3 linked regions of the Homo sapiens genome follow. The protein of the gene in region 1 purifies or fractionates together with the protein of each later gene. This does not show direct contact. Each region holds a gene or a part of one and is shown in the gene's direction. Other genes may lie near its edges. The genes, in order: CTH, ATIC and PREP.

Region 1 (3,655 bases):
CAGCGGTTACTAGAGTCTGGGGAAGGGAGGGTGGAGGTGGGGAGGACAGAGGATGGTCAATGGGTACAAAGTTACAATTAGAAGGAGGAATAGAGGAATAAGTTTTGGTGTTCTACTGCACAAAAGGATGATCATAGTTACAATAAGATACTGTATATATCAAAATAGGAGAGAGGATTTTAAATGTTTCTACTACAAAGAAATGATAAATATTTGAGATGATGGGCATGCTAATTACCCTGCTTTTGATCATTACACAATTACACATGTATTGAGCATCACATTATACTCCATGACTTAAAGGATTAATTTACAGGAAAATTGGGTGAAAGAAAACACTTTTAAAAATTCCTTTTCATTTTTATTTTTCTTAATTCTCCCAGTTTCAGACATATTTATTTATTTATTTATTTATTTATTTGAGACAGAATCTTGCTCTGTCACCCAGGCTGGAGTGCAGTGGTGTCATGAAAAGCTCACTGCAACCTCTGCCTCCTGGGTTCAAGTGATTCTCCTGCCTCAGCCTCCTGAGTAGCTGGGATTACAGGTGCGTGCCACCATGCTCAGCTAATTTTTTTGTATTTTTAGTAGAGATAGGGTTTCACCATGTTGGCCAGGCTGGGCTCAAACTCATGGCCTCAAGTGATCCACCCACCTCAGCCTCCCAAAGTATTGGGATTACAGGTATGAGCCCCCGCACCCAGCAAATTTCTTTCTTTCTTGTTGTTTTTTAAGATAAAGTCTTGCTCTGTCACTCAGGCTGAAGTGCAGCGGCTTGATCATGGTCCACTGCAGCCTGAAACTCCTGATCTCAAGTGATCCTTCTGCCTCAGCCCCCTAAATTGCTGGGATTACAGGAGTGAGCCATTCTCCAACTCCCAGCCGTCTAGATTTCTTGTAATACCTAATACAATGTACATGCTTTATAAATGGTTGTTACACTATATTGTTTAGGAACTAATGACAAGAAAAAAGTCTGTACATGTTCAATACAGACACAACTGTTCATCTATTTTTCCAAGTATTTTTTTACCCATGGTTGGTTGAATCCATGGATGTGAAACCCACACATAGGAAGGGCTGAGTAATTAGGAATCAAGATCATGACAAACCCCAAATGTAAATAATCACAGCATACGTCATGAGGTTTTAATGATTAAAAATCTAAGCAGATGAGTTTATACTTACTCTACATAAAAATTGCTGAATGTTCATTTCAACTATTTTATGTGTTTAATGAGTCATAAAATACTAGAGTCTCTACTGTAGGTAATAAATTTAGAGTCCTGTCAGCAATTGCTATAAAGAAACAGGTTCAAGAGACCAGTTGACCTGGGCTTATCTGCGCTTTCCAAGAAACTTTTGCCTTCAGATTCAATACTGGATTCAATACTTTACATTTTTCTTTGGTGGGAGGGAGGCAAAGGAGAAATAATATCAGAGATCCTGGAAAATTTTAAGATGCACATACTTTTGCAAAGTTAGTATTGATTAGAATAAGAATGGAATTTATAATTGCAAATAGGCAGGTAATGAAGCATATTTTCAAATTGTTTCTCATTTAAAGTAAAAAACTTGTTCTTTCAGCGCCCTTTGGCTCTGGGAGCTGATATTTCTATGTATTCTGCAACAAAATACATGAATGGTAAGATGCATACTTTGAATGTTCTTTTTCATGGATAGGTGAAAATTGCATAGGGCTTGGCTTTTGATCCCTTTTCTTTGATTATTTTGTAGATTATTTCCTGTGACTCATAGAGAGAGTAAAAAAAAAAATCCTTTGATTAAATGTAGGATTTCATTAACAGTACACAAAACTATGCTCATGATTTATGAGAAGAGGATTAAAGTTGGCCATAAAAAGTTATGCTTTTATCTTGCTGACACCTTAAAGAAACATTTTGTTTTTATATAATTTTTATTTTCTTGTTTTAGACATAGCTTTTGCTACTGTCCAGTTGAATAAAGGTTACTTAAACTTATTTTATAGAGCTTTTTCCCTGAGAGTTTTTTCAAGTGAAAATCACATTTTGAAAATTATAAAATAAAGAGTAAACATAAATTGTTTCTAACTGAAATTTTTGTTTGTTTGTTTGTTTTTTGTTTTTAGGCCACAGTGATGTTGTAATGGGCCTGGTGTCTGTTAATTGTGAAAGCCTTCATAATAGACTTCGTTTCTTGCAAAACTGTAAGTATTAAAAAGTGCAGGTTCCCTATGACACTCTCAGTGACTACATTTGATATTTGTATTTCCACTAAGTGATGTGAAGTGATGGCATTCTAATAATTTATGAAGAAATGAAAAATAGAGGAGAAAAATTCTGATTTTTTTTATTTATTAATTTTTTTTTTTGAGATGGAGTTTCACTCTGTTGCCCAGGCGGGAGTGAAGTGGCGTGATCTCAGCTCACTGCAACCTCCACCTCCTGGGTTCAAGCGATTCTCCTGCCTCAGCCTCCTGAGTAGCTGGGATTACAGGTGCCCACCACCATGCCCAGCTAATTTTTTATATTTTTAGTAGAGACGGGGTTTCACCGTGTTGACCAGGCTGGTCTCAAACTCCTGACCTCAGGTGATCCACCTGCCTTGGCCTCCCAAAGTGTTGGGATTACAGGCATGAGCCACCGTGCCTGGCCAAAAAAATTTTTTCTGATTTTAGAGGAAAGTGTTATAAAAATAGTTATTGCAGGCTGGGCACGGTGGCTCATGCCTGTAATCCCAGCACATTGGGAGGCTGAGGCAGGTGGATCACTTGAGCTTAGGAGTTTGAGATCGGCCTGAGCAACATGGCAAAACCCTGTCTTTACCAAAAATACAAACCAATTAGCCAGGTGCAGTGGCATGTGCCTGTGGTCCCAGATACTCAGAGGCTGAGGCAGGAGGATTACCTGAGCCTGGGAGGCGAAGGTTGCAGTGAGCTGACATCGTGCCACTGCAATCCAGCCTGGGCAACAGAGTGAGATCCTGTCTCAAAAAACAAAAAACAAAAACGGTTATAGCATAGCAAGGCTTTATGATATGATATAAGAAATGAGTTTTTTTATTTTCATGTCCATCTTAATTATAATCATAATTTGATAAAGCCCTAGTGAATTTTTAGTTTCAAGACTTAATGGTTTTTTTTTCTTTTTTAAAATTACATTTGAAATGAGGGCTTTCATATACTATACCTTTTATATCACGAATGATGGTTAATTTTAAATAGCACTTACAGTATAAACTTACATTTTTCAATAGATGTCTAAACACCATTTCCTATTTACATTGCTTAGTTTATCTCCAGTATAGTTAAAGATTAAGCCATTGTAACTTGACAGGTAAAATATAAACATGATTAGGAATAAAAATGTCCTCCACAAGGGAAACTGAAACTTATTGCTTGATAAGTGTCCTTTGGTTTATAAAAAGTAGAAATGAAGTATATATCCTGGAGGCATGTGAAATCATTGACCGCTTTGCACAAAGGCTAAATAGAATATTAGTAGAATATTCAGTAATAATAGGACTTGAACTGCTGTTTTTCTCTGTATGTTAAAATAATTTTTCAAAGAAATACAAGGTTAGGCTATGAACAATTTATGATTTTATTAAAATCATAGAAAGGACTACTTATCTTCATATTTGAGAAGTTTATATCATTGTGCTTTTACTTAGT
Region 2 (3,655 bases), on another chromosome or scaffold:
GTGGTATGGTAGTTGCATGTTTAGTTTACTAAGAAACTGCTGAATTGTTTTCCAGAGTGGCTTGTACCATTTTGTATTCCCACCAGCAATGGATGAGTGATCCAATGTCTCTGCATCCTTACTAGCTTTTGGTATTGCTACTTTTTTTTTTTTTTTAAAGACATGGGATAGTTGTGTAGCAATCTCTCACTGATTTTAATTTGCATAATAGCTCATGATGTTGAACATTTTTTTGTGTACTTATTTGCTACATGTGTATCCTTTTTGGTGAAAATGTCTGTCTTTTGCCCATTTTCTAATTAAATTTTTGATTGTTACTGAGTTTTTTTGTTTTGTTTTGAGATGAAGTCTCGCTCTGTCACCTAGACTGGAGTGCAGTGGCATGATCTTGTCTCACTGCAGCCTCCACCACCCGGGTTCAAGTGGTTCTCCTGTCTCAGCTTCCCAAGTAGCTGGGATTACAGGAATGCGCCACCACACCTGGCAAATTTTTATATTTTTAGTAGAGATGGGGTTCACCATGTTGGTCAGGCTGGCCTGGAACTTCTGACCTCAGGTGGTCCACCCGCCTTGGCCTCCCAAAGTGCTAGGATTACAGGCATGTGCCACTGCGCCTGTCCTGTTACAGAGTTTTTAAAGTTTTTTTATGTTTTAGGTGCTAGTTTGTTGTTGGATATGAGGTTTGTTAATAATTTTCTCCTAGTTCGTAGCTTGTCTTTTCATCCTCTTTAATGAGGAATCTTTTACAGAGGAAAAGTTCTTAATTTTACTGAAGTCAAATTTATCAACTTATCTGTTGGCTGTAGCAAATATCCTCTGTCCATTTAGCATACAGACGTGGACTATCATCCTTCTTTTCCATTTGTATTCATGCCTGATACTAAAGATAGTGATATTTTTGGGCGTTATTCTTGTTGTTCTATTTGGACTGGTAATTCCTAATGGTTTTTGAACAGTTTCAACTTAAGTTATTCTAAACAAAAGAGAAAATGATCGTAATTTGATTTTTCCAAAGTCTTGGCTGTCTGTGTGCATCATAACGATTTGTGATGTCTATGAAACAATTCTCCGCATTGGTTCTGAACGTAAATTTTACCATGTCTCCAGATATTTAAAAGTACTCTGGTCAAGAAAATATTGTTTGTCAGTTTTGGAATGGATATGGTAGTTCTTACCTCATGTGATATAAAAAGGCTTAATCCACAATTGCTACAAAATAACATGAGTTTGTGTCTATGGATGCATTGTGCTAAGTTCCACCCCAAATGTGTTAAATATTTAAGTAAATCATGGTAGTGTGTAGGAGAACAGTTAATTTCCCTCTGTCATTTGAGTGGTATAACTATGTTGTAGGTCTTTTACATTAAATAGAACTAAGAAACTTAAAGTTGGCCAGGTGTGGTGGCTCACACCTGTTGTAATCCTGGCACTCTGGGAGGCTGAGGCACGTAGATGACTTGAGCTCAGGAGTTCGAGACCAGCCTGGCCAACATGGTGAAACCCCATCTCTACTAAAAATACAAAAATTAGCCAGGCATGGTGGTGCATGCGCCTGTAATTGAAGTGTGAGAATCTCTTGCACCCGGGAGGTGGAGGTTACAGTGAGCCGAGATTGTGCCGTTGGAGATTGTCCCATTGTGCCTGGGAGACAGAGTGAGACTCTGACTCAAAAAAACCACAAAAAATAATATTTAAAAAAAGAAGCTTAAAGTTAAATGAGTTTAAAAGGCCCCATGCAATTTACCATTGTGTATGTGTTTCAGTTGCCAGAGTCTGCCCTCCGAGACCTCATCGTAGCCACCATTGCTGTCAAGTACACTCAGTCTAACTCTGTGTGCTACGCCAAGAACGGGCAGGTAAGTGGGCTGTTGGACTCGCCTTCGGGGGACTGTTGTTTTACGAAATGATATTTAAACATCCGTCTGCCTTAGATATTGGACAGCTTGAAAGGGAATATTTGCCAAATGTTTGTCTTTTGTGTTTGTCAGTGTTTCCTCAGTACCCTGGTGGGCTGTTAAAACTAATGATGATCAGAAAATATCTTTGGAACCAGGTACTCAAAGTAGTTGTGCTGCTTCTTGCCTTGAATAGGTTGGCACATTTTGGATTAGTGAGACTCTAATAGCTGTTACAAAACTGGATTATTTCCTTTCCTTTTCCCCCATTGGTATTATTTCCAGGGAAGAGGAGGTAAGTTACGGTACTGCCACCCACCAGCCTATATTTTTGCAGCCTGCAGGGTATTTTCACATTATTTCTTATGTTGTCTTATCAAGAATCTGCTGAGTAGAAAGACTGCTAGACTAGGAGTTAACTTCATCTTTAAAAAGTTAGGTTCATTGAGGCATAATTTGTATACAGTAGAATTCACCTTTTTAAAGTACAGTTTGACCAGTTTTCACAAATTTCACAGTATGTGACCGCTGCCACAATTAAATACCAAACATTTCTCACTGTGTGACGTTAAGCAAGATATTACACTTCTTTCCTAGTGTCCCGAGCCTCAGAATACAAGATGGAGCTGGTTCATCTCTGAGGTCTCTGCTAGCCTTTTCTTCACCTGGTGTCCTGAGCTTATCTCTTGGCATTTGTTAAATTATTTGGCCCACAAGTGACAGGGAGGTGGGTGGATATGAATTAGCCTATGGCCTGGAAGACCCCAGATTGCCAGTCTCTGTAGTAACAAACTCCTGGGAGATTGTGTCTACTGGTGTCAGGTTCTAAGAAGTTCTGTAAGTCCATGTAGAATGAGTGCTTCATTCCTGATGTTGAGGAGGAGGCGGCTGCCCAGGTATTTGTGGTCTCTTTTATTCTCTTGTAGCTGTGGGCAGGGTTGCCAGCAGCTGTGCTCAGAAAGAGATGGACTGTTGGGCAGACAGCTTAGGGGCTGTTCATTATAGGAACTAAAACCAGAAAACACACCTGTGCATTTAAGTCCTTGTTGCTTAGAATTCAACCCATAGAAATAGAGGAAAGAAGGAAGAACATTTGTACCTGGCGGAATTGTTTCTACTTTTAGCTACCCATGTCAGATCCTTATCTCAATTTCTGAGAGTTGATATTTTAACTGTAATTTATACACTGGGGCAAACAAAAGACTTTCAAGTAACCATAGTTATTTTTGTGGTCATTAGTTTTATTTATTTATTTATTTATTTTTTATAGAGACAGGGTCTTGCTCTGTTGCCCAGGCCAGAGTACAGTGACATGATCATAGCTCATTGTAGCCTTCGACTCCTGGCCTCAAGCGGTCCTACCACTTCAGCCTCCTGAGTAGCTGGGACTGCAGGTGTGCGCCACTACCCCTAGCTATTTTTTAATTCTTATTTTTTGTAGAGATGAGATGTTGCCATCTTGCCCAGGCTGGTCTCCTGAGCTCAAGCAATCCTTCTGTCCTAACCTCACAAAGTGCTGGGATTACAGGCATGAGCCAGTGCACCCAGCATTGGTCATTTATTTTAACTTTTTTTTTTTTTTGACCTCAAACCATCAATTTTATTGAATTGTAGATTATTAATAGTCATATGTCACATATCACTGAAGAGGTATAAATAGTAGTTATAAACAAACCTCTTACTCCACCCCTTTTAATGACTTAAAAATTATTTATATTTCTCTTATTTTGGCCTGATATGTTCTTCCACAAAACTAATAA
Region 3 (3,655 bases), on another chromosome or scaffold:
CTCCATCAGCTCTATGCTTCCCCCAGTCTTTTCAGCCATCATTTATCATAAGGCCTACCAGGACCCCAGTGCTTGGGGCTGGTCAGCAGCTCCAGGTGAGAGGGGTCTCCTCAGCATCAGAGACCACCCTTAAGATATCTGTACCTCTCTTCTGTTTCCCATGCCATCCCAAACCAGAGGCCTGAGGCTCTGGATTTTTTTTGCATCAAATCAAATCAGCGAACATGAGGGTAAACCTGTTGTAAAGAGATTTCCATTAAGTACCTGTTAGGTACCATATGCAGGAAAGGCTTAGAAATGACCCCCGGGCATCCAGCATGCACCCCAGGGGCTGACAGCAGACTCCTCAAGTGCACCTTAGTGAAAGTGAGTGCCCCTGGCCGGCCATCTGGTCCATCGTTGCCAGTTATCATCCCCAGAAACTACTGATTGTGACTGTCTTTGAAACTGCAAAGAATTCATTGCATAATTTTGAGCTGATATTAGAGTTTACACTAAAATCATACTGTGAAACTGATATTAAAAGATGAGTGATAAGAGGATAAAATTTCTGTATACCATATGTTTGATCCCAAATATGTATGCTAATTCTGAACCCCTTGACTCACCTGATTTCCTATTTAAATTGTATGTAGTTTATGCACCATACCCCCTACTCATGGTCCCCTGATCCTGGGATCCTCTCCTGAAATAACTGGATTATTCTCCAGAAAACCCCTCTGGTCATCAGATGTCCACCATGCTCTGAGAGGGAAGAGTAATTTGGTCCTAGTCTGCTCTCTCATTTTTTATTAGTTAGAACCAAGTTATTTTCCAGTCTTGGGATTAGGCAGGTTCAAGATTGACTAAGGCTAACAGTAGACTATGTTTAGACTGATTTATAAACTTCCTCAAAATTTAGGCCATGATGAAAGGACCAGAAATAGACCTTTTCCAGTTATAGCCTAGGATATGATACACTGGTAAATCTAAATTCCATTCTGTTAATTGACTTTAAAATTTAATGCTCTTTTTAAAATGTAGTCATATACCCAAAATATTGTTATTCCTAGTAACTAAGTAATCCTAGCTGTTCTAAATTCACTGGTAATTTCTTACTGAAATCTTAATAACATTTGTTTTGATATGAAAAACATTTCAGTAGGACTGCTTTATCTTTAATTAAATTTCAGCAGAAGTGGTTAATCTCAAGTATCTAATTAGATCTGTGTCTGCTCTTTGTTCATTTCAAAGGCCGTTATTTCAGACATCTGTTCCTTTGAGGACATGCTTTTGACTTTTGGCCTTTACTTATAGATATTTCATGGCCCTGTAAATGTTTCTCCAAGTAATTTGTTTGGTTTAATACACTGGAACGATTTGCAGATGATAAAGCCCAGATTCTCTGGGGAAACGTTGAAGATCTTTCATTCTGGAATTGAGAAAACATAATGTGATGCTCTGCCGCAACGCTACCTCACCACCCAATTCCTTTTGTTCTTTCCATTAATAACCGAGGGCAAGACTGGGGAATTTCTTTCTCCCCATCACCGACCATGTCAGACTCCTGCAGAGGTGGGGTGGGAAGCGTGCCTCTGCAGAGCGCTTCCACCTCCGTCTTCGCGGGGAGGGGAGACACGAGCACTCCCACAGCCAGCTCCGGCTCGGGTGCTGGGTGCAACCTAGAGGACTAAACACTGCTGCAGGTCTTGCTTTATATTTGTAAGTTCAGCTTCCCAAAATACAGGTTCCTTGTGATGCCATGCTTCTATCCTTTCATTATCATACATCTCTCATAACCGACCATCTGTTCCCTTTGGGGCATTTCCCGTTTAAGTTCTAGAGGCTTTTAGAAAAATACAGATCCACCATATGGATTAGCATTGTGGTATTGATGATATATTTCCACAGTGCATAACAGAACTTAAATTGAGGCTTTTTTTTAAATGCAGTGTTAACCCATGGTTTTTAAGTTAATCAGTATTTGAAACCGTGCTCTATCATTTGAATTCCCATTAGATTAAACTTATTTTTATGTTTTGTTAATTAACTATCTTCCACTTTGGCACACTGTAGGTGGTATCTTGGCCAACAAACAAAACTGCTTTGATGACTTTCAGTGTGCTGCTGAGTATCTGATCAAGGAAGGTTACACATCTCCCAAGAGGCTGACTATTAATGGAGGTTCAAATGGAGGCCTCTTAGTGGGTGAGTACTGGATTTTATTCATTGCACTTACTAGTTAGCCCTCTTGGGGTTTTCAGATACACCATCTGTAGGCAGCTCTTGACTTAACTTTGTGGATAGGACCACAAAGTGGTATAAGGAGAGCAAAACCCATTTGTACCATTTGTATTTGGGTATCTGATAAATGACATACGAAGAGACCCTATTTATTTTGCCTTGGGCAGGTCCTGAGATCTTGAACAAGTCCCTTAATCTCCCTCATCACTGTGAAAGCAAGTGGGGATGGGAGGAGGGGATACAGGGTTTCCAGAAAGTCCTCAAGCTTTTCAAGATTCACTTTGGGGAGTAAAGCTCCATTACTGATGAGAATCCCCACCCCCTCTGACAGATCTCAGAGTGGGTGGGGAGCTTTGGGGCTATTGGGCAGGTGATTTCTGATGGTTTCCTCTTGTGCTCTGGATAAATGCAACCAGGGCTCTGGAAGCATGTAAGTAAGTATTGCCTTGCCTTGTTTATGTAGATGTTTAATGATAGACTGCCTCCCTTTTCTTTCTACGTTGGGCTTTTAGCTGCTTGTGCAAATCAGAGACCTGACCTCTTTGGTTGTGTTATTGCCCAAGTTGGAGTAATGGACATGCTGAAGTTTCATAAATATACCATCGGCCATGCTTGGACCACTGATTATGGGTGCTCGGACAGCAAACAACACTTTGAATGGCTTGTCAAGTAAGGTTTTATTGACATATATATGTTGTTAGTGGTTTGATATAAAGTTGAACACAGTCACAGCAGGATTAGTGCTTGAGCTTTGTCACTGTCAGGGTCTTGCATTTGCATATAATCTGCTGGAGAGGAGATGGGACTACCTACTTGTCTTTCTTGATTTAATATGGTCTTGAACAAAAGCAACAAACTACAAAAAATGTGGTAGGGCAGAATTCTACAGATGGCCTCCCAAGATTCCTACCCTGGTTATTCAAACACTTACCTAGATACTGCTTGCTGTCAGGGAGCAGGATATTCATCTGCTGCTCTTTGGATTATCTCTTGAGGGGTCCCAAATCACATAAACCCTTAAAGGCTGAGCACATTCTCTGGCTGGAGTCAGGGATGCAGCAGAAAGGGAGGTCAGAGAAATTGGAAGCTTGTAAAGGATTCAGCCTGCCATTGCTGGTTTTGACAATGGAGGAAGGGGGACCTCTAGAACCTGAGAGCAACCCCCAACCAATAGCCATCAAGGAAACAGGACCTAAGTCCCACAGCCGCACAAAACTAAATTCTGCCAACATCCCGAGACTGCAAGTAGGTTTTTTCCAGAGTTTCCCCGTAAGAGTCCAACCAGCCAACACCTTGACTTTGACCTTCTTTGACCTTGGAAGACCCAGAGCAGAGAACCCAGCTGAGCCAACCCAGACTGCTGGCTTACAGAACTGTGAGATAAGAAGTCTGTGATGTTTCAAGCTGCTAAAATTTGTGGTAATTTGTTACT

What was found.
Region 2: the proteins of CTH (region 1) and ATIC fractionate together in Homo sapiens (co-fractionation; one large-scale study listed by BioGRID). This does not show direct contact.
Region 3: the proteins of CTH (region 1) and PREP fractionate together in Homo sapiens (co-fractionation; one large-scale study listed by BioGRID). This does not show direct contact.

Annotation. Positions count from the first base shown.
Region 1 is NC_000001.11:70,428,207-70,431,861, forward strand, and holds part of CTH (cystathionine gamma-lyase), read left to right. Parts: intron 1-1,587; coding exon 1,588-1,645; intron 1,646-2,110; coding exon 2,111-2,188; intron 2,189-3,655. UniProt on the Homo sapiens protein: Catalyzes the last step in the trans-sulfuration pathway from L-methionine to L-cysteine in a pyridoxal-5'-phosphate (PLP)-dependent manner, which consists on cleaving the L,L-cystathionine molecule into L-cysteine, ammonia and 2-oxobutanoate.
Region 2 is NC_000002.12:215,343,016-215,346,670, forward strand, and holds part of ATIC (bifunctional purine biosynthesis protein ATIC), read left to right. Parts: intron 1-1,763; coding exon 1,764-1,856; intron 1,857-3,655. UniProt on the Homo sapiens protein: Bifunctional enzyme that catalyzes the last two steps of purine biosynthesis.
Region 3 is NC_000006.12:105,280,983-105,284,637, reverse strand, and holds part of PREP (prolyl endopeptidase), read left to right. Parts: intron 1-2,055; coding exon 2,056-2,187; intron 2,188-2,735; coding exon 2,736-2,892; exon of another isoform or gene 2,893-3,655. UniProt on the Homo sapiens protein: Cleaves peptide bonds on the C-terminal side of prolyl residues within peptides that are up to approximately 30 amino acids long.